Homo sapiens: one gene and its partners. The protein of the gene in region 2 purifies or fractionates together with the protein of the main gene of each other region. This does not show direct contact. Each region holds a gene or a part of one and is shown on either strand. Other genes may lie near its edges.

The links. The genes of interacting proteins can lie anywhere in the genome.
Region 1: the proteins of ZSWIM2 (region 2) and TKTL2 purify together in Homo sapiens (affinity purification with mass spectrometry; 2 studies listed by BioGRID and IntAct, with this or other methods). This does not show direct contact.
Region 3: the proteins of ZSWIM2 (region 2) and BCAM purify together in Homo sapiens (affinity purification with mass spectrometry; 2 studies listed by BioGRID and IntAct, with this or other methods). This does not show direct contact.

The regions. Positions count from the first base shown.
Region 1 is NC_000004.12:163,470,223-163,478,219, reverse strand, and holds TKTL2 (transketolase-like protein 2), read left to right. Parts: upstream 1-4,465; 5' UTR 4,466-4,485; coding exon 4,486-6,366; 3' UTR 6,367-7,125; downstream 7,126-7,997. UniProt on the Homo sapiens protein: Plays an essential role in total transketolase activity and cell proliferation in cancer cells; after transfection with anti-TKTL1 siRNA, total transketolase activity dramatically decreases and proliferation was significantly inhibited in cancer cells.
Region 2 is NC_000002.12:186,845,760-186,853,379, forward strand, and holds the start of ZSWIM2 (E3 ubiquitin-protein ligase ZSWIM2), read right to left. Parts: upstream 3,412-7,620; 5' UTR 3,372-3,411; coding exon 3,207-3,371; intron 2,037-3,206; coding exon 1,960-2,036; intron 1-1,959. UniProt on the Homo sapiens protein: E3 ubiquitin-protein ligase involved in the regulation of Fas-, DR3- and DR4-mediated apoptosis. Functions in conjunction with the UBE2D1, UBE2D3 and UBE2E1 E2 ubiquitin-conjugating enzymes.
Region 3 is NC_000019.10:44,811,971-44,819,634, forward strand, and holds part of BCAM (basal cell adhesion molecule isoform 1 precursor), read left to right. Parts: intron 1-192; coding exon 193-421; intron 422-507; coding exon 508-578; intron 579-1,279; coding exon 1,280-1,376; intron 1,377-1,467; coding exon 1,468-1,650; intron 1,651-2,181; coding exon 2,182-2,318; intron 2,319-2,633; coding exon 2,634-2,790; intron 2,791-6,551; coding exon 6,552-6,667; intron 6,668-6,770; coding exon 6,771-6,912; intron 6,913-7,085; coding exon 7,086-7,222; intron 7,223-7,375; coding exon 7,376-7,520; intron 7,521-7,611; coding exon 7,612-7,664. UniProt on the Homo sapiens protein: Transmembrane glycoprotein that functions as both a receptor and an adhesion molecule playing a crucial role in cell adhesion, motility, migration and invasion.

The DNA of each region.
Region 1 (7,997 bases), on a different chromosome or scaffold from region 2:
GAAAGAAACGATGAGAATTATTACACCCAAAGCAGACTTTTACTTACATCTTATTGACCAGAACTGGGTCAATAAGTGCTGACTGCCATTACTAGCCAAAGGGAATGGCATTGTGATGCTGGTCCTACATTAATTATGATTTTCTCCTGGGACTAGGAGCTGGGCCAAGTTTCTTAAATTTGTTGCCACCTCTCTCTTCTGCCCCTTCTCTCTCCACCGCAAAATAAGGACTTGTAACTGTGGAAAAAGTGGGATAGCATCCTACAGATGCATCATAATAGCATCTGTTAAAATTTTCAAAGCAATAATCCAGGAAGATAAAGTACATTTTTCTTTCCAGGAGACTTATTGCCTTACACAAGAATCTTATTCTCATTTGCTCCATACTTTAGCTTCCAAAGCCAACCAAATTTAAACAGTGGAAGCAAAAGATGAATTCAGCATTTATGTATTTTATATAATTCCATTTTAACAAAACTTAACAGTTTAAATAAGATTTAAGTAAAATTTCAGCGTTCCCAACTCCTAAATATCACTCACCCTCACATGGCAAAATATCTATTTTCACAAATCAGTGTAGACCTACTCAGTAATCGGTAATTGTGTGTTCTGTTTTCTCTGCTGCAGCTCAGTAGAAATTACACTTATCAATTGCTACTATTTAAGTTTTTCCCTCATAGCTACTTGTATTGGTAATCCTGTTAGATTTTGTTTTCATGTGAAGTACACGCTATAATGAATACTTTTAGATACTATGAGAAAAAATTAAGTGAAAAATTTAAGCAAAGTTAAAACAAAAATTATTGCTGCTTTTAAATAGACTTTAAATTGGGGTCAAAAGTGGCAGCCTGAAGGTATATTTTATTTTTCCAACAAAATGTTTATAAGTTTTTCAATTTTGAATGCCTTTAAGTGGTCTTGTATTCTCCAGTTTAACACAGGCCCCTCTAACCCTCTTATAGCTGACATCCAAGCACTCGTGGTAACTCCTTATCCCAGTAGGCACTTGAATTTGCCAATCTCTGCTTTGTCTGGATAAACCAAGATTAATAATAAATGAATAATGTTTTCCTATTTGCAGAACATTTTTGACTGGCTTCCAAAATGATCTCTAAAATGAATAATGAACTTTTCTCCAAGACAACTACATTTTTGGCGTGCTGGTTTAAAAGTTTTTGGCTGACATTTTGTCAGCCAAATAGGGTTTGGCTCCCCTATTTTGTCTTCTAAATAGGGGAGAAGGTGGTATCACGTCTTTGTTTGATTTATTTGACGAAGTTGTGTTCCCAGCCATATTGGGTAATTTTGCATTATGAAATTGTGCATACTTTAAACAAGTTGAGTATTCTTTAGTTGAAATTATTTGCTTGAGACCAGAAGTGTTTTGGATTTCAATTAAAAAAAAATTTGGAATATCTGCATTATACTTAACAACGGAACATTCCAAATCAGAAAAATCCCAAATCCAAAATGTCCTTTGAGCAGTTCCCCTGAGTAACATGTCAGTGCTCAAAATGTTTCAGATTTTGGAGCATTGGAAACATCAGATTTTCAAATTTGGGATGCTCTACCTGTATTTATATATTTTCAATTGTATATTTTAAAATATATTTCAAATTTAAAAGACTAAAATGCTTAAAGAAAATAATTAACAGCTTATATATGTTATTTATATAACATATTAATATAAAATTAATTTTATATAAACTTAATATATATTACATATATTGATATGAGTTTTTATATATAATATATATACTTTTATATATAGTATATCTTTCCAGATATTTTACTATATATATACTTTTATATATTTATATATATATATATATATATATCTTTCCAGAGTTCCTTTTACAAAATCTCAGAATGGTTTATAAGTATTTTACACATAATTTATAAAATATTATTTTCTATATAGTATAAAAAATTCACACGGTCTCACAGAATGATAGAGGGAAATTCACACTCACTATCTAGGGTATTAAATCTCCAAGACTACATTCTTCTCTTAATAAAATTGACCTTTGCTAATGTTAAAATTTTTTTATTTAATACTTTAGGAAATAGCTGTGCAATGTTTTAAATGAGTGAAAGAATGTGGGAACTTGGAAAGAAATGTTAAGAAGTCCCATGTTTTTATTCATGGGAACATTGCCTCATAAATCATTTTTGTACTATCATGTTTACTAATTGTGTGGATTTATTAGAGTTCTTTTTGGCCAAAATAATGGTGAGCTACCTGTGTTTATATTAACTACTTTCCTGTCAGCCTGTAGTAGTTTGCTATTATTTTACTGTGATTATTATTTTTTCTCTAATTCCCATCTTCTGTACTACCAGTTCTAGCCTAGTCTGCTTGTATTTCCTCCTCCTTTATTTGTCTAAAAAGATAAACAAGCTTTAATTTGCAAAGGACATGGAGAGTTATGGATACATGATGACCTCTTAAGAACTTCTCCAATGCCAACATTCCTGCAACAAGTCTTAAAATCAGTAGTGTCATATTATTACTATTTATTCTAATATGTGTCCTTAAAAGTTAAAATGATAGAACTAGTTGAAATAGCAAATAACATTTGAAATATTTTTCTGAGATATAATGCAAGAGATAATAAGTATAAAGAGTAACAACACCCCCTGAGTTAGTTGTTTACAACCCTGACTGAACATTGAAATTGCCTGGGGAAGATTTTAAAATTACTGACGCCTAGATCTATTGCCTAGAAATTCTGATATAATTGGTCTGGAGTGCAGCATGGACATGAGATGTTTTTAAAACTTCCCAGATAATTCTAAACTACAACTAATGTTGAGAACCACTGGTCTCAGACTATCTCCAGATTATGTTATTAACCTTGACTACCCATTATAATCAATGGATGTATTTTAGAAACATAGCTTCCCAGACTCCAGGTCCAGAAATTCAAATTCTATTTTTCTGGGATGGAACCAGGCATTGTGTTTCTTATGTGCCCTAATTTTAACGTGAAGTTAAGGTAAGAATTATTGCTCAAGAAACCAAGAGGTTTAACATCGCAATATGGGAAGGTATGATATATTATCATTGTGTTTTTTTTAATTGTTGTTTTATTGATGACAAACCATAACCTTGGCCTGCTAGAAGAGTTCAATGGCACAAATTTAGTTTTTTTTGTTTTAGACGGAGTCTCGCTCTGTCTCCCAGGCTGGAGTGCAGTGGCACAATCTGGGCTCACTGCAAGCTCCACCTCCCAGGTTCACGCCATTCTCCTGCCTCAGCCTCCCGAGTAGCTGGGACTACAGGTGCCCATCACCACGCCCAGCTAATTTTTTTGTATTTTTAGTAGACACGGGGTTTCACCGTGTTAGCCAGGATGGTCTCGAACTCCTGACCTTGTGATCCGCCTGCCTCGGCCTCCCAAAGTGCTGGGATTACAGGTGTGAGCCACAGCACCCGGCCCACAAATTTAGTTTTTTAAAGTAAGTAACTTTGTCTTAAAAATGATTTGTAGTAATAGTCATTAAAAGATAAACTGAGGCACATTAAAATATTAAAGCATTTATTTGACCATTCAGTGATTCATGAATCTGGTAGCTCCTGATAAAGGAGCCAAGGAGAAGGCTTTTATAGGGTGAATTTGGAAGCAAAGGAAAGATATTTGATTGGTTAAAGTGGAGTACTAGACTTATTTGGGTCATCCCAGTGGAAAGTCCCCAGTTAGAAGTTAGCTGGCAGTTTCTGATTGATTAAGCTTAAATTTCCTTTTTATCATTTACACTGATTTGGGTTTCCTTTCCTTAGGTAGGAACTCATGGAGCTGAAGCTACCTCAGCCTACTGGCCTTCTAATTATTTCAACACAGAAATAGTACTTTACGGCACACTGGAGTTGCAATTCTATTCTGCAATTGGGTGGTTTCAGATTTGTTCTTCCTATAAATTTTGGTCAAATTAGTCATTGCATTTCTTTCTATAAGTCTGAGATTCAGATATTTGGTTGCTCTGAGAAAGTCTCTGTTGAGATAGCATTGCCATACTGGTCAGATTGAAAGTGACTTTGTATCCTTTCTATTAATGTTCTGATATGAAAGAGTGATGACTCGGATATAGTGTTAATGCATTAAAAAAGCACAGCCTGACAAATCGCTTCCTATAATACACAGAAAAATGTCTAGTCTTGAATTTATAACACAGGGAAAGGTAAAAAATTTAATTATGCTTCCTAATGTTGAACATGCACGTGACAAAGTAAATACTAAAAATCCATTCAGCTGGGCGTGGACAGGGAGAGGGAACGGTGCACATCAGAGGGTGCAGGCTACTCCAACGTTTCCGTTTCCTCAGTCTCGCGGGAAGCTCCGTTGTGGGCGCCCCGGCTGGTGGCTGAGCTCAGGCCTTCAGGCAGAGGGGAGGCGAGGGCGGGGCGGTCACGTGAGAGCACTGCCGCGGTGGGTTGTGGGGGTGCTGCGGCGCCGTTTGCTTTGCCAAACCGACAAAAGAGAGATGATGGCCAACGACGCCAAGCCCGACGTGAAGACCGTGCAGGTGCTGCGGGACACAGCCAACCGCCTGCGGATCCATTCCATCAGGGCCACGTGTGCCTCTGGTTCTGGCCAGCTCACGTCGTGCTGCAGTGCAGCGGAGGTCGTGTCTGTCCTCTTCTTCCACACGATGAAGTATAAACAGACAGACCCAGAACACCCGGACAACGACCGGTTCATCCTCTCCAGGGGACATGCTGCTCCTATCCTCTATGCTGCTTGGGTGGAGGTGGGTGACATCAGTGAATCTGACTTGCTGAACCTGAGGAAACTTCACAGCGACTTGGAGAGACACCCTACCCCCCGATTGCCGTTTGTTGACGTGGCAACAGGGTCCCTAGGTCAGGGATTAGGTACTGCATGTGGAATGGCTTATACTGGCAAGTACCTTGACAAGGCCAGCTACCGGGTGTTCTGCCTTATGGGAGATGGCGAATCCTCAGAAGGCTCTGTGTGGGAGGCTTTTGCTTTTGCCTCCCACTACAACTTGGACAATCTCGTGGCGGTCTTCGACGTGAACCGCTTGGGACAAAGTGGCCCTGCACCCCTTGAGCATGGCGCAGACATCTACCAGAATTGCTGTGAAGCCTTTGGATGGAATACTTACTTAGTGGATGGCCATGATGTGGAGGCCTTGTGCCAAGCATTTTGGCAAGCAAGTCAAGTGAAGAACAAGCCTACTGCTATAGTTGCCAAGACCTTCAAAGGTCGGGGTATTCCAAATATTGAGGATGCAGAAAATTGGCATGGAAAGCCAGTGCCAAAAGAAAGAGCAGATGCAATTGTCAAATTAATTGAGAGTCAGATACAGACCAATGAGAATCTCATACCAAAATCGCCTGTGGAAGACTCACCTCAAATAAGCATCACAGATATAAAAATGACCTCCCCACCTGCTTACAAAGTTGGTGACAAGATAGCTACTCAGAAAACATATGGTTTGGCTCTGGCTAAACTGGGCCGTGCAAATGAAAGAGTTATTGTTCTGAGTGGTGACACGATGAACTCCACCTTTTCTGAGATATTCAGGAAAGAACACCCTGAGCGTTTCATAGAGTGTATTATTGCTGAACAAAACATGGTAAGTGTGGCACTAGGCTGTGCTACACGTGGTCGAACCATTGCTTTTGCTGGTGCTTTTGCTGCCTTTTTTACTAGAGCATTCGATCAGCTCCGAATGGGAGCCATTTCTCAAGCCAATATCAACCTTATTGGTTCCCACTGTGGGGTATCCACTGGAGAAGATGGAGTCTCCCAGATGGCCCTGGAGGATCTAGCCATGTTCCGAAGCATTCCCAATTGTACTGTTTTCTATCCAAGTGATGCCATCTCGACAGAGCATGCTATTTATCTAGCCGCCAATACCAAGGGAATGTGCTTCATTCGAACCAGCCAACCAGAAACTGCAGTTATTTATACCCCACAAGAAAATTTTGAGATTGGCCAGGCCAAGGTGGTCCGCCACGGTGTCAATGATAAAGTCACAGTAATTGGAGCTGGAGTTACTCTCCATGAAGCCTTAGAAGCTGCTGACCATCTTTCTCAACAAGGTATTTCTGTCCGTGTCATCGACCCATTTACCATTAAACCCCTGGATGCCGCCACCATCATCTCCAGTGCAAAAGCCACAGGCGGCCGAGTTATCACAGTGGAGGATCACTACAGGGAAGGTGGCATTGGAGAAGCTGTTTGTGCAGCTGTCTCCAGGGAGCCTGATATCCTTGTTCATCAACTGGCAGTGTCAGGAGTGCCTCAACGTGGGAAAACTAGTGAATTGCTGGATATGTTTGGAATCAGTACCAGACACATTATAGCAGCCGTAACACTTACTTTAATGAAGTAAACTAGGCTTATTTCTAAAAAGTCAAGTCTATTGGCTTTGGCCCAAAAGCACTGGTATCTTTGTATTAAATTCATGTTTATTGTCACAAAACCATTATTTATACCTATACAGTTGTACTGTTTCTTTTAAAGCAAAGCCATTTAACATCTTTCTTCATTCCTAATTTGGAAATTAAAGTTTACCTTTCTGTTAATCTATGTATAAATGTTACTCTGAGTTATTAATGTGGATTTTAAAATTGTAAGCAATAGAATAGGAAATAAAACAACTACCTAATACAAATATTTCTGATAAGACTACAAATATCTGACTGAGCTGGGGATTAAAGTAGAGGTAACTGTATCTTAAATGAGTATGATTTCCTTGTAAGTTAAAAAAATTGAAATTTAATTGTAGACTTCAATAGTCCAAGTTTTGAAGGATGTTTGAGCTTTTGTATAATGCCATTTATACCTGCAGTTTTACAGATAATGTTTGACTGCAGTTGCCTTGGAAATTCCTCCAAAGTTTGCCTTCATCTCTCCTCTACAGTTTGGAGGTGATGGTGCAGCAGTGGAACATCTCTTGATGCACCACACTACTTGTGTTCTGTGAAGTGATGAAAGTATAACTGGTTCTAGTTTGCACACTACACACATAGTTTTGTGAAGCTTCAGAAATGTTTTTTCTTTTCCTTGTGGCCAAACCAGTTTGTTAATCTGATTATATTCATCTGCTAATGATACTAAAGTTAATGTAATAAAGCATTTAAAAATCAGATACTTCAGTCTGTGCTGTGTATGTGGGATTTGATTTCTTCCTGATGAAATCCTAAATAAGGAGAACTTGTGTCTAAATAAGAAACAGAGAGAGTCATGACCCCCAGAAGCAAACCTGGAAAAAGGTTGAAGCTGGAGATAAGTTACTAGAGAAGATTGTATGGACTAAAAAGCCATCCCTTAAGCAGACTCCTGACTTTTGGCTGTCAGTGTGTAAATATATGCTTGGAGTACAAGAAAGTACCAGTCAGGCAAATCATAGATGGACCCAAGGTTCCAAACTAAATTAAATTACTCTGTGTCTATGTCAGGTAATTATTTCCTTACTTTTATTACCCTCATTAAGTTCTTTGGAGGCATAACCAATTTGTCTCAGCAATCATTGTCTTAGGAGGTATAATAGAGCCAAAAAATATTAATACTAACCTGGGAATTAGAGAAACCAGGCTCTCCTCATCTGCTACTACCCGTTTTCTCTAAGCTAATTTCCTCTTTTGTAAAATGATTACGAAAATTGCTCTGTTTTTTCATAAGATTTAAAAATTACTTTGTAGAAATAAAAAGTTGACATAAAATCATTGCAGAAGTTTAGAAAATGCAAATAAGTAAAATATGTTTACCCCCCGTTTCACACACACAAAAATCATTTAATTGTATTCACAGCATGTTTTCTGTACATGCTGTGAAAGTGGGCATGTAAAATGGTCTGTTTCCAACCAAACATGCATAAGCACACCTTTAATAATGACAGTAGATCAGATTCTTTATGTCTAATGGAATCTCAGACACCACCAGAAATTATATTTTTTGTAGCTGGAGGGGAAGCCCTTAGGAATCTCTCTTGTAAAGACTCTGTTCCACAAGTTATCAACC
Region 2 (7,620 bases):
ATTACCCTACAAATAGATTCTCACACTAGAGGAAAAATTTCAGATTTAATAGACATAATCTTCAATAGAGTTCTACTTCTATCTTGAAAGATTTATAGTTAAAGTCAACAAAATTATACACTGGGGAAATAACATCCTATTCAATAAATAGTGCTGGGAAAATTGCAGCCATATGCAGAAGAATAAAAGTGGACTCATAACTTTCACCATATACAAAAATTAACTCAAGATGGATTAAAGACCTAAATGTGAGACCTTAAACTACAAAAACTCTTGAAGAAAAACTAGGAAACTCTTCTGGACATTGGCCTGGGCAAAGAATTTATGATCAAGTCTTCATAAGAAAATGCAACAAAAAGAAAAATAGTTTAATAGACTTAATTAAACTATAAAGCTTCTGCACAGCAAATGAAACAATCAACAGAGTGAACAGACAACCTAAAGAATGTTAAGAAATATTTGCAAACTACGTATTTGACAAAGAGCTAACATCCTGAATCTATAAGGAACTGAAACAACTCAACAGGAAAAAACCTAATAACCTCATTAAAAAGTGGGCAAAGGACATGAACAGACATTTTTCAAAATAAGATATACAAGTGGCCAACAAACATAATAAAATGCTCAACATCACTAATCATCAGAGAAGTGGAAATTATAACCACAATGAGATATCATCTTATACATGTCATAATGACTATTATTAAAAGGTCAAAAAACAACAAATGTCGATAAGGACCTGGAGAAAGGGGAATGCTTATATACTATTGCTAGGAATGTAAATTAGTTCAACCTTTATGAAAAACAGTACGGCGATTTCTCAAAAAACTAAAAATAGAACTACCATGACCCAGCAATCCTATTCCTGGGTATATGGCTACTGGGCAAGAAATCATTATATCAAAAGATAGCTGAACTCATATGTTTATCACAGCACTATTCACAACAGCAAAGATACGGAATCAACCTAAGTATCCATAATGGTGGGCATAAAAATATACCACATTAATAAAATGTGTGTATAAACATATATATATACACACACACACACATATATATATATATATAATGTAATAGAACTCAGCCATAAAAATTAATGAACTCATGTCTTTTGTAGCAGCATGGATGGAACTGGAGGCCAATATCCTAAGTTAAATAATTCGGAAATAGAAAGTCAAATACTGCATGTTCTCAGTTGTAAGTGAAAGCTAAACAATGGGTCACATGGACATATAGAGTGAAATAAGACATCAGAGACTACAAAAACTGGGAGGGTGGGAAGGGAGTAAGGCTGAAAAATCACTTATTGGGTACAATGTTCACTATTGGGGTGATTAGTACACTATAAGTCCAGACTTCACCACTATGCAATATATGCATGTAAGAAACCTGAACTTTTTATAAAAAATAAATAACCTGAACTATTTATAAAAATACATGAAAATTTAAAGTGATTCATAGTCAAATGTTAACTGAAAAGGAAAATATTTTGAAACTTGACTGCCATAGGCCAATACGGAAAAGGTGAACACTTTCAACCTATGTATACATGTAGAAAATGGAACATTTGATATTCAAGAAAACGTGATTTTGGAAACACAATTTGTGGAAGCACAGCAATATCTCAAATGAACCATATAATTATCAGCAGTGATGGGATCAGGATTTTTCCCCCGTTTTATAGTTAGATTTCACATTTGTACATGAGAATCTAAAATTGATTTTTTCTATTTAAAAGCATTAACATTATAAAATGGTTCTCAATTTAAATGTTATTCAATTTTCAGAATAAAATGAAATACTGAAAAATTTATTGGTAAGCTATGACCATTTTAACTTTATATTCCCCAAACACCAAATTTCTTTAATTTTGTTGTTATTGAAACCATGACAAAGGCAAAATATTTAACACACCAAGATGTTCCTTCATGGAAGATCTTCATTTGAAAAGTCACTTACCAGCAGATATGCTTACAAAGTTCCCCTCCTTTCGGAAATGTGGAACAGTTACAAACGTGAGGATTTCCTAGAAAAACCTTTAAAGGAAAAATGCATACTTAAAAAGACCAGTAAAATTTGAGAGTTAGAGCAAAACTGAGTTAATAAAAGAGATTTGAAGAGGTAATTTAGTTTAGGTGATTCAAAAAGGTTGAATAGATTCTACTGGAGAATCTTAATTCTTGATACTAGTCTCTAGGCTTCATTATTTATCTTTGTTAGCAAATTAACAAATTAGGATGGTTTTAAAGTGACCTGCCCTTAGGCAGGTGAAAATAAATCTAATTCCCAAAGTCAGAGAAGAAAAAAAGCAAATATCAACCCATAAATTCCTCACAGTAAGGAAATTCTACTTTGGGGTGGAGCTAAGCACCTTTTGTAAGGTAGCTCATTTTGGATTTTTGTTTGGTGCATTTGAGTCGGTGAATTTATTTAATTTTATTCAAGAGGACAAAATTTATTCACCAAGACTAGTTTGGCTAAAACTATTAAATACAGTAAGTATTGAAGCAACAAAGTAAAAAAAGATGCTTTAAATAAGCACAGACTAGTAAATTGCATTCAATTCTTAAACTTCACGGCACTAACGTAAAATTTTGTAAGTCAACTCCTAGGAGGTAGTGCAGTGGCTAATTTTTGAGTGGTTAAGGATGGGATATGCAATTATGAAATATCTGTGGTCTTTCAGTAAACTTGAATTTTTATTCATTAATATCTTTCCAAGGTATTGCCATTTAAACCATCCTTTAATAGGGCCTTCATACAGTTTCAGAGTGAGCAAAGAGTAAAGGGAAACCTATTTATTTATTTAGAAAATATTTACAGTATGCTAGCAGATTGTAGAATTTTCATTTCGTTTGATTTACAGGACTAAGGACCACTAACAACAGATCCAAGAACACATGTAATGCCAACCAGGTATTCATACGCCTCTGACATTTTCAAGCCTAAAGATCAAGAGCCATCATCTTTTACAAGAGTTGCAGTTTGGTCTTAACCTCCAAAAAAGAAACTTCTAATAAATACTATTTCCTTCTGTAATTTCACGTATTTTAGAGTCTGGAACACTCGTGGGAAGGCGCTTTCGGGGGTGAGGCAGCAAGTATCCGCAGAGATTGTGATGGTGGCTACGCACATTGGGTATGCCAGTGGGGGAACCTGGTGGGCGGGGATGATGGCCAACTGGGGGCGGTAGGGGCGGTAGTTACTCGGAAATCCATGTATTCCGGCTCCTCCTCCCTCAGCAGGAAGCCAGTGGGGCCCATCTCTCGTAGGAGGTAGATGCTGCTACTCAGCGCCTGGTCTTGGTGCCAGCTGAGCCTCTCGCTCAAGTGTCTTCGCCTTTCAGAGGCCTTATAGCCTCGGCGAAGCATGCTGGGTGCGGGCGGAGGCGGCCCCTCTGCTCGGCTCACTGAGGCGCCAGCCGGTCTCCAAGACGACGGCGTGCAGGCTGGTTGCCTTGGTGACGGTGGTTGGGCTCGGGGTGTCCCGGTGTGCCCTGCGCCGAAGAAGAGCGGGCGACAAAGGTGCGGGATGGCATGGATTCTGCAACTCTCCCCAGCCTCCACTGCGTTTCGAAGCGACGCCCTTGACTGAGGAGTGTTTTTAATAATCATCTGGCCGACTTGGAAGCTGGAGGCCGAAGGCATAGCTGTCAATTTTCTTGCGTTCCTTCTGCTTCCTCGGGGCAGAGATGGTGAAATCTACTTGTTAGGACAGTTGCAAACCCGATTGCAGTCTGGGCTCTGGATGCTGAAATTATCCTGTGATGATTCATCATCTTTAACAGAAAGCCGAGGTTACAGAGCCCAGAGTGATTTTTGACGTTCCACAATATTCCACGAACATTTTCTGATTGCTCACTATATGCATAGATTGACTGAGTCTCTGGGGGAAAGATGTAGAAGACAGGAGTTCTAAACCCTAGGAAGTGCATCACCGGTAGTGGCGCCGGCTGTAGTCCCAGCTACTTGGGAGGAAACCAGATCCTTAAGTCATTTCTCTCTGCCTCTCTCTCTCTCTCTCTCTCTCTCTCTCTCTCTCTCTGTGTGTGTGTGTGTGTGTGTGTGTGTTGGAGGGGAAATGGTCTTCCAAGTGAGGGAACATTTTTTAATTGCATGTTTGGGTAGGGGTGGGTGTTGGGGATGGTACAGCCAGAATGGTGGATGGTGGTACGTCCTGAATGGTGGCACAGAATCCATTGACTATGGGTACATGAAACTTACAAATCTGTATACTAAGGAATAAGAGTTTCAAGGTATGCAATGTTTGTACCTCCAATAATTTAAATTGTCTCTGAGGTTTGTTTACCACATTTTAGGGGGAAAACTGTAATAAAGTATGGGTCAACATTTTGAGTCATAATTACTGAAAAAAGAAGCCACATTACTAGAATCTCTATAGGAAATTAAAAGCAGGAGATAGCACTACTTGGAGGTCCAGTAACCTTTGCCTTGGTGGCCAAAGATAGAGCATATTTGTCCTATTTTATCATGGGCAGAAATCATAACTAGATTATGTCAACAGCAGGAGAGTTCTCAGAAAATGGCAAGGGCAAAAGATGAAAGAAGATGATGGTAATGGCAGCTTTCACAGGTGAGACACCTGGATAAACATCATCCAACCCTTAAAGTCTTAGGTCTAAGGTCTAAGGTTTTAATTTACTAAATTTTATTTTTATTCTCCTATTCTGACTAATAACAACTCACATTCATACTACCATACTCCCAACTTTAGAATCAATTTAATGGTACTAGATGTTAAAGAAATACATTATAACATTAGAAAAAAACTCACATATCAAGAGCAAAAGAAATTATAAATTGGATTAAATTATTTTACATATTGATATGTATAATTTTAAAAACTCAATAAATTAATGACTCCATATTTGCTATATAATATGATGAGTTGGGCTTCAGAGTGAGGACATTTTATTCAACCATCAATTTTTTTTCTCTCTCTCTTTATATACATGTGTGTACATATAAAATAAAGTTATAAAATTTTTAAAAGCAAACAGCAAAAATTGTTAAAGCTGTTGTGTTTTAGTTATAGCTAGTGATACTTGTTTACTTGCTCCATGTATAAGTGATAAACATTTTCAAAGGGTCGCATGTTTAAGACACAATAGTCATTATATCAATGGAATATAGGTTCATAAATTCCATTTTGGGGGATGGTAAAAATAATGGTGTTTATGCTTTCATAGAAGTTAAAAAGTGAAAGCACAGATTGCTAGACAGAACTTCATTCTATTTGTAAGATATTTGTTTTGATATCTGTCAGTTATGACTTTAAAAACATTTTTATAGTCAGGTGACTATCCCATATGTTTGCTTCATCTCTTAAGAGTGTGTGATAGGGGTAATATTTTGAAAATATTAAATTGGAGAATTAAATATCCTCCTTCAGGTATATTTTGTGGCATATTTCCCCATGTGAGAGGGAGGTGATTACTGCAAAAAACAAAGCTGTGGGCTGGGTGCGGTGGCTCATGCCTGTAATCCCAGCATTTTGGGAGGTCAAGGCTGGGGGAATTGCTTGAGCTCAGGAGTTTGAGACCAGTCTGGGCCACATGGCAAAACCCTGTCTCTACAAAAAATACAAAAATTAGCTGGGCGTAGTGATGCGTGGCTGTAGTCCCAGCTACTTGGGAGGCTGAGGTGTGAGGATCACTTGAGCCTGAGAGGTGGAGGTTGCAGTGAGCAGAGATTGTGCTGCTGCACTCCAGCCTGTGTGACAGAGTAAGACCCTGTCTCAAAAAAAAAAAAAAAAAAAAAAAGATGCTTGAGTTTCATGGATCAATAAACCTGAGTTTCTTGGATTAATTTTTAGCCTCTTTAGCAATACAATTGTCATGAAAGACAGGTATTAAAAAGTTATGATGGCTCCCGTTAAGACAGAAAAAACTGAACCTAGAGTATTAGACCTTGGAATTATATGGAAAAGAATGCTCTAGGAAGTAGGAAGAAGAGTGATGGAAGTCACTAGAAGAAGTCAGCTTGCCAGTCTCCAAATGGGCATGTGTGAGTTGGGTTGAGGGCGGAATATATGGAGTGATGGATTGAAACATTGAGATGAGTTTAAGATGACTGAATACCTGGAGCAGGTGTGTGTGTATAGCATACTTCTGTAATGGTGTTAGAGAGTTGCAGGCTACTAGGAAACTTCAGCTTTTTGCCATGTCTAACACATGGCAAGCAATATTCAGAGGTGCCTGTGGAAGACAGGTAAATGATCTGGTTCTCAAGGATTAAAAACATGAAATGGATACAAGAGTTTGTGTTTATTTCTAGAGATCAGGCACAAAAGAAAGGCAGAATACTGGTATCTGACAAAGAAGATACAGAATTAATTGACTTCAAGACTGGAAGCAAATAGAACTAAGGATTCCAGAGGGAGGCACCAGCACAACCACCTTAAAAAAAGTCAAAACTCGCAACTCATTGTTCACTAACAAGGAACAATTCAGACTGCCCATATTGCAGAAGTGACCAGCAAGAGTCTAGGGGACACTGTGTAAATTTAAGGTCATCAGCTTTTGTTATCAGACACGTGTTTACAGAGCTTTTATTTCCTCATACACTCATGTATCTTTTTGAGATGAAATAGGGAATGAGTGGAAATCTAAAATTCTAGGCATTTTATCCTTAATAGTGATTATGATGGTCTTAACATTCCACTTAGCTTGACTAAACTTTAGACAGATTTTTTCCTGACTGTAGATTCTTGACCTCCCTTTTCTTAGAGTATTTACTTCGGAAAACTTGGAATTATAAATTCTTTCTCTACCCCTTTAAGATGTAAATATTCTTGCAGCCTCTTGTAGATGTGACAACTAGTCATGTCTTTCTCAAGGACCTGGGAGGCATTCTTTGAAATAGAATCAACAATAAAAATAGTGCTCTCGTATCCTAGTCTTTGCAGCAGCATAGAAGCCTAATTTAGATAAGTGCCAATTAGCAAATACAGGTGGCTTAGTCACATTGGCCAACCTTCACCCTAAAGTCCTCCAGTACTTTTCCACTAGTTTACCTCCAGGTGCAGGAAACCACCATGGCACGTGTGAATCTATGTAACAAAACTACACGTTCTGCACATGTACTCCAGAACGTAAAGTATAATAATAATAAAAAATATAAAAACTGCCACCTTTTGTTTCAGTAGTCATGTTTAATCTCACTCCCATATTGCAGTAGACTTTAATAAAGTCTTCCTTGCTTGTTTAACTCCATCCAATGCAGTTTTTCTTTGACAGTGAACACCATTTATCTAAAAGACTATTTGGTAATTAAGTCAGGCTAAATTATATTTTGCTGAGTTTTTTTCTTGTGAACAAAGAAAGTGAAGTCTATCAAAAGCAACTGGACCATTTATAGAGAAAATATTTTAAACTTTTTGCACATAAAAGTGTAATATGAATAAATATATAACCCACTATGAGTGTGACTGGGACTTTAAGATGCCAGAATAAGTAGATAATGTTAGTTTCTCCCCCATTGACTAGCCTAAAAAAAGTCAGGTTTCAACCTCTGACAATGAAGAGAACTAAAGAGGGCTGAGGTAGGCAGAATTTTCAGAATGACCCCAGTGACCCCAATGACCCTTACCCTTGTATAA
Region 3 (7,664 bases), on a different chromosome or scaffold from region 2:
AGGAGACAGGAAAAATCAAGAACTGATAGGGAATGGGGGCAGGAGAAGGTGGGGAGGGACAGAGGGACCAGGGAGACCCATAACAAGAGGAAAAGAGGCAGAGCCAGGAGCTGCAGAGAGAAAGGACCCAGAGAGAGAGAGACTGAGGAGCGCTGGGACACCCGGAGCTGAGAGCCTGCCCCGCGCCCACAGACCGACCGCTCGGGAGCTCGCCCCCGCCTAGCCTCGGCTGAGATGCAGGGCTCTGAGCTCCAGGTCACAATGCACGACACCCGGGGCCGCAGTCCCCCATACCAGCTGGACTCCCAGGGGCGCCTGGTGCTGGCTGAGGCCCAGGTGGGCGACGAGCGAGACTACGTGTGCGTGGTGAGGGCAGGGGCGGCAGGCACTGCTGAGGCCACTGCGCGGCTCAACGTGTTTGGTAAGTGTCCTCGGGCATCCCCCGAAGGGAGGCAGGCAGGGAGGGGCGCAGGGCAGGGGCTCCTGACGTGAACGTCTTTTTCACAGCAAAGCCAGAGGCCACTGAGGTCTCCCCCAACAAAGGGACACTGTCTGTGATGGAGGACTCTGCCCAGGAGGTACCTCTCGGGTGGACCTTGGCCCCAGGGTCCTGGAGGAGGAGGGGACAGGGCCCTGGACTCCTGGGTCTGAGGGAGGAGGGGCTGGGGACCCCTGGGTAATAAAGGAGGAGGGGTAAGGCCAGGCGAGGTGGCTCATGCCTGTAATCCCAGCATTTTGGGAGGCAGAGGCAGGCGGATCACCTGAGGTCAGGAGTTCCAGACCAGCCTGGCCAACATAATGAAACCCCGTCTCTACTAAAGATACAAAAATTAGCTGGGTGTGTTGGTGTGCAACTGTAATCCCAGCTGCTCGGGAGGCTGAGACAGGAGAATCACTCGAACCCAGAAGGCAGAGGCTACAGTGAGCTAAGATCACACCACTGCACTCCAGCCTGGGCCACAGAGCAATACTCCGTCTCAAAAAAAAAAAAAAAAAGAAGAAGAAAAGAAAAAAGAAAGGAAGGGCAGAGGGGGAAGACTCCTGTGTCCTAGGAAGGAGAGAGCTGGGGGACCCAGAATCCTTGGTCCCTGGAGGATGGTGCTGGAGGCCTGGACTCTTTAGTCTGAGTCGGGGACTAGGAATTTGGACTCCTGGGTCCTGGGAGAGTCGGGAGTTAGGAGCCCGGCTCATGAGTCTGAGTGGGGAGAACTCCTGAGAGAGGAGCCCCGACTTCAGAGTCCCAGCTCCAAGCCCAGGGCCATGCCCGTGTCTGCCTCAGATCGCCACCTGCAACAGCCGGAACGGGAACCCGGCCCCCAAGATCACGTGGTATCGCAACGGGCAGCGCCTGGAGGTGCCCGTAGAGATGAACCCAGGTGAGCAGCGCAGGAGCGCGGCGGGACGTGGGCTGGGGTGGGTGGCGGGGCTATGGCCTGGCTGACTGCCACCTCCCCCGATCTCTCCCAGAGGGCTACATGACCAGCCGCACGGTCCGGGAGGCCTCGGGCCTGCTCTCCCTCACCAGCACCCTCTACCTGCGGCTCCGCAAGGATGACCGAGACGCCAGCTTCCACTGCGCCGCCCACTACAGCCTGCCCGAGGGCCGCCACGGCCGCCTGGACAGCCCCACCTTCCACCTCACCCTGCACTGTGAGTCTGTGCTGGCCTTTGACCTCTGACCTCAGGCTCCACACCTCATGAGGCCTGACCCTCCACCCGGGGGCTTCACACTCCCCTCTGACCCTCTGCCTCCCTACTTCATGCTAAAAAAAAATGTGCTAGTGCTGGCCACTGACCTCTGACCTCAATTGGTCGCACAAGCCCCATCCTGACCTCTGACCTCCGACCTCCACTTAGCACCCTGGACCCCATGAAGTTTATGACTAAATGGTGCTTTCCACCTTCTCACACTGAATTGGGTCCCCCCATGACATCTGGCTCCAAGTCTCACACTGACCCATCGCCCATACGGACCTCTGACTCTTGACCTATACTCTTAGTTTATTTCAACCTCTGAACTCTGGCACTCAGAATAATTGTGAACCTGAGGCTTGAAACCTATGACCCGTAACCTTTGACCCGCCATAGCCCTCACCTGGGATGCAGGGCTGACCTCTCGCCTGTCCTCTAGCCTTGACCCTTCCCCTGATCACAATTCCCATCTCCCTGCCCTTCCCTTAGATCCCACGGAGCACGTGCAGTTCTGGGTGGGCAGCCCGTCCACCCCAGCAGGCTGGGTACGCGAGGGTGACACTGTCCAGCTGCTCTGCCGGGGGGACGGCAGCCCCAGCCCGGAGTATACGCTTTTCCGCCTTCAGGTGACCCACCCAAGGGTCCCTCTGGGATCCACCCCCCAGCCCCTGACCTCTGTGACCTGCTAACCTGCATAACTTCTAATGTGGGACCTGGGAGTCCCCATGGCTTAGGCAGCCACCTGATCTGGTGGCCCACGAACTAAAAGGACCTCTGACCCCTGATTTGAGAGAGTCAGGACTTAGCATGCCACCTGACTTGATGGCCCCTGACCCCTGATTCTGGCTTAGCATGACACTAACCTGGTGGCTTCTGACCTAGCATGAGCCCGCTGAACCGGGGTGGCTTCTGAGCCTGGTTCCTCGTCCCCCGTCTCCCAGGATGAGCAGGAGGAAGTGCTGAATGTGAATCTCGAGGGGAACTTGACCCTGGAGGGAGTGACCCGGGGCCAGAGCGGGACCTATGGCTGCAGAGTGGAGGATTACGACGCGGCAGATGACGTGCAGCTCTCCAAGACGCTGGAGCTGCGCGTGGCCTGTGAGAGCCCTGGGTGAACGGGCGGGCAGGAGGGGCCCTGGCATCAGTGCCTCTGCGCCCTCCTCCCTACAGCCCTGAAGTTGCTCTGTCATCCCAAACACTCTGCCTTCAACCCTTTCTCTGCATTTCTTGGGGGTTTTTTTGGTTGTTTTTTTTTTTTTTTTTTTCCCAGAGACAGGACCTGGCTACGTTGCCCAGGCTGGTCTCGAACTCCTCATGCGATCCTCCTGCCTTGCTCTCCCAAAGTGCTGGGATTACAGGAGTGAGCCACCGCATCTTGTCGAGAGCTCTTTCCATAGCACAGACCTGACCCTCCTCTGCTCAGAATCTGCCATGGCTCCCCAGTACCCTTGGGAGAAGCCCAGGTGTCTCACCATGGCCTTCAAGGTCCACCTGGCCAGTTCCACCATTAGCTAGCTGATCCTTCTCCCCAGTCAAGGCTATCTCCTCATCACCCCCCAGGCTCCTCTGGTTCCTACCTTCACTGCCCATCCTTCCTACCGTCTATTTCTCACCAATCCCTTGAATCCCAGGCTTCTAAGAATGATTTTCAGTTCATTCGCATCCAGGCCCTGGGGAAAGGCTGTATTCTCCCTTGGCACTTCTTACATATCCCTTCCTGGGGTAGACCCTGCGCCAGATGCTGGGGACACATCTGTGAACAAGACAGACCACCCCTGTTATTTCAGTAGGGGAGACAGATGGTAAATGCTAACTAAGCCCTTTCGTAACAGTAGTGTATCTACAGGTGATATCACCAGTGAGAGAGAGCAGGAGAGGGGATTATTTTAGGTGGCAGGTGTTGCAGTCTGCTTTCCTGAGAAGCAGATTCTGACTTGGATGTTTTCAGGCAAGAAGTTTATGGGAAGTACCCTGGGTTCCGCACCTCTTGGGTCTAGGGAGGTAAAGGAAGCAAGATTTGGCAAGGTGAGAAGTTGGACTGAAGTCTAAGGAAGGTCTCAGGCTGGGTGCAGTGGTTCATGCCTATAATCCCAGCACTTTGAGAGGCTGAGGCAGGAGGATTGTATGAGCCTAGGAGTTTGAGGCCAGCCTGGGCAACAGAGGGAGACCCCATTTGCACACACACACACACAAATTAAAAATTAGCCAGGCATAGTGGCACACACCTGTAGTCCCAGCTACTCGGAGGCCCAGGTGGGAGGATCCCTTGAGTCTGGAAGGTTGAAACTGCAGTGAGCCAAGATTGTGCCACTGCACTCCAGCCTGAGCGACAGAGAAAGACCCCGTCTCAGGAAAAATAAAAATAAAAAAGTAGGCCGGGCCCCGTGGCTCATGCCTGTAATCCCAACACTTTGGGAGGCCGAGGTGGGTGGATCACCTGAGGTCAGGAGTTAGAGACCAGCCTGGCCAACATAGTGAAACCCCCTCTGTACTAAAAGTTAGCCGGGTGTGGTGGCATGCACCTGTAATCCCAGCCACTCAGGAGCCTGAGGCAGGAGAATCGCTTGAACCCAGGAAGCGGAGATTGCAGTGAACTGAGATCGTGCCATTGCACTCCAGCCTGGGCAACAGAGTGAGACTCCATCTCAGAAACAAATAAAAGAAAGAAAGAGGGCCTCAGTCAGCCCCACGGGGTACTTGGAATCCAGGATGGCCCTTCACAGTTGTCCCCAGTTGGGGTGAGGGGGCTGGGCCTTAATAACCTCTACATCAACCAGTCCTCAGAGGTGTGCTGGCCTTAGGCAAGGGGCTCTCAGCAGCTGAGGCAGCTCCCAGAGAGGGGTGACAGCTGCAGGCTGACAGCTGTCATCCTTCTTAGCAGCTGGTGGAATAAGTCCTTCCGTGCTGTAGGAAAGATCTGGGTGTCCACAATAGGGGAGGTCAGGGAAGCCTCTGAGAAGAGACATTTAAGTGAGACTCAGAAAAGCAGACAGCAGCCAGGCACAGTGGCTCACACCTGTAATCCCAGCACTTTGGGAGGCCGAGGCAGGTGGATCACCTGAGGTCAGGAGTTCGAGACCAGCCTGGCCAACATGGTGAAACCCCATCTCTACTAAAAATATAAAAATTAGCCAGGCATGATGGCTGGTGCCTGTAATCCCAGCTACCCAGGAGACTGAGGCAGGAGAATCGCTTGATCCTGGGAGGCGGAGGTTGCAGTGAGCTGAGATCGTGCCACTGAACTCCAGCCTGGGTGACAGAGCAAGAGTCTGTCTCAAAGAAAAAAGAAATTGGCCGGGCACGGTGGCTCACACCTGTAATCCCAGCACTTTTGGGAGGCAGAGGCGGGCAGATCATGAGGTCAGGAGTTTGAGACCATCCTGGCTAACACGGTGAAATCCCGTCTCTACTAAAAATACAAAAAATTAGCTGGGCGTGGTGGCAGGTGCCTGTAGTCCCAGGTACTCGGGAGGCTGAGGCAGGAGAATGGCATGAACCCAGGAGGCAGAGCTTGCAGTGAGCTGAGATCCCGCCACTGCACTCTAGCCTGGGCGACAGAGCCAAACTCTCTCAAAAAAAAATAATAAGAAGAAGAAATGCAGAGAGCTACAAAAAGAGCACTGCAAGTAGAGTGAGCAAGTGCAAAGGCCCTGAGGCAGGCCCCAACTTGGTCTACTCAAGAAAAACAGCAAGAGAACGGGGTAGCTGGGAGCACAGGAGGAATGGGGAAGAGTGGGAGATGGTTCAAGAGGTGGGTGAGGGCCAGACCAGGCAGCATCTTTTAGGCACCCTCAAGAAGTTTGGCCTCGATGCCAAGGGTACTGGGGAGCCACTGCAGGGTTTTATGCAGAGGGGAGGGATGACCAGTGGGTGGTTGGTTTTTTTTGTTTTTTTTTTTTTGAGTCAGAGTCTCACTCTGTCACCCAGGCTGGAGCGCAGTGGCACAATCTCGGCTCACTGCAACCTCCACCTCCCAGGTTCAAGCGATTCTCCTGCCTCAGCCTCCCAAGTAGCTGGGACTATAGGCATGCACCACTATGCCCAGCTAGCTTTTGGATTTTTAGTAGAGATGGGGTTTCACCATGTGACCAGGGTGGTCTCGAACTCCTGACATCAGGTGATGCACCCGCCTCGGCCTCCCAAAGTGCTGGGGTTATAGGCATGAGCCACCGTGCCCGGCCTGACCAGTGGATGTTTTAAAGAGGTCCCTCTAGCTGCTCAGTGGAGGATGGACAAGAGGGAGGAGCAGGCTAGTGAAGAGGTGGTTGGGACAGTCAAACCTGGGGCCAGAGGTGGCAGGAAGCCAGAGGATTTGTCCTGGGAGCAGACCAGATAAAGACTTGCTGAGGCCAGGAGCAGGGGCTCACGCCTGTGATCCTAGCACTTTTGGGAGGTCAAGACAGGAGGATCACTTGAGGCCAGGAGTTTGAGACCCAGCCTGGCCAACATAGCAACACCTTGTCTCTATTCAAAAACAAAACTTTGCAGAAAAGATGTTTGGGGGTAACAGGGAGGTTACCCCACAGGTTGGGGTTTGAGCAAAAGGTTTGTGTGCTAAAGTCACAGAAGGGACACCTTCCACACCTAAGGTTATTCATTAACCTTGGGCTCAGATGTCAGCTCTGAAGAAAAGTAATTGACTTGGGCATGTCAATGTTGGGGTTAGACTGCTAGATTTTTGGTTGGAGAGCCTGGATGGGAGAATGGAGATTTCATGGAGATGGGGTAAACCAGGAGGATTACTTGCTGTTCTCTGCTTCCAACTGTCCATTCATGTTTGCACCCCCGACCGCCCCTGGAGAGCCCCTAATTGAGTGGGTGGCGGTCTGGGACGAGTGACAGACTGTCCCCCACTGCAGATCTGGACCCCCTGGAGCTCAGCGAGGGGAAGGTGCTTTCCTTACCTCTAAACAGCAGTGCAGTCGTGAACTGCTCCGTGCACGGCCTGCCCACCCCTGCCCTACGCTGGACCAAGGTGAGAGGGAGAGGAGCCCCCTCGGGCCCTGCACTCGCACCCTCCTCTCTCCCCTCACTCCTCGCCCTCTCACAGCGTCCTCCTCCTCCTCTGCCCTTCCCAGGACTCCACTCCCCTGGGCGATGGCCCCATGCTGTCGCTCAGTTCTATCACCTTCGATTCCAATGGCACCTACGTATGTGAGGCCTCCCTGCCCACAGTCCCGGTCCTCAGCCGCACCCAGAACTTCACGCTGCTGGTCCAAGGTTCAGGGGGCAGGGAGGGGGTGGGCTTGGATGGGGACAGTGTGGGGTGTGGGACCTGGACAAACAGGACGAGTTCCTGAGTCCCTGGCTGGGGACTCCATCTTCTGCTCGATGCCTCTCTTCTCTCTCTCTCTCCTCTCCCTTCACTTTCTTCCCATCCCCACCACCCACAGGCTCGCCAGAGCTAAAGACAGCGGAAATAGAGCCCAAGGCAGATGGCAGCTGGAGGGAAGGAGACGAAGTCACACTCATCTGCTCTGCCCGCGGCCATCCAGACCCCAAACTCAGCTGGAGCCAATTGGGGGGCAGCGTAAGGGACCTTCCTCTCCACCCTGAGCCCCCTCTCACTCATCCAAGTATCACACCCTCCTTTCCACTTCCTGGGAGACTGGACGTCGTTCACCTCTGCCCTTGACCCCACCCCTTGACCCCACCAGCCGGGGCCTGATCGGAGCCTCCATAGCCCGCAGAGCCAATCCCCGGACGGCAGGGTTGGGTGAGCAGCTCTCTGACCCTGAAAGTGACCAGCGCCCTGAGCCGCGATGGCATCTCCTGTGAAGCCTCCAACCCCCACGGGAACAAGCGCCATGTCTTCCACTTCGGCACCGGTGAGTGACTGAGGTGGTGGCAGAGGAGCCGGGTGTGGGGCAGACAGAGCCCACTGCCTGACCCACGCCTCTCTCCATCCTGTCCCTGCAGTGAGCCCCCAGACCTCCCAGGCTGGAGTGGCCGTCATGGCCGTGGCCGTCAGC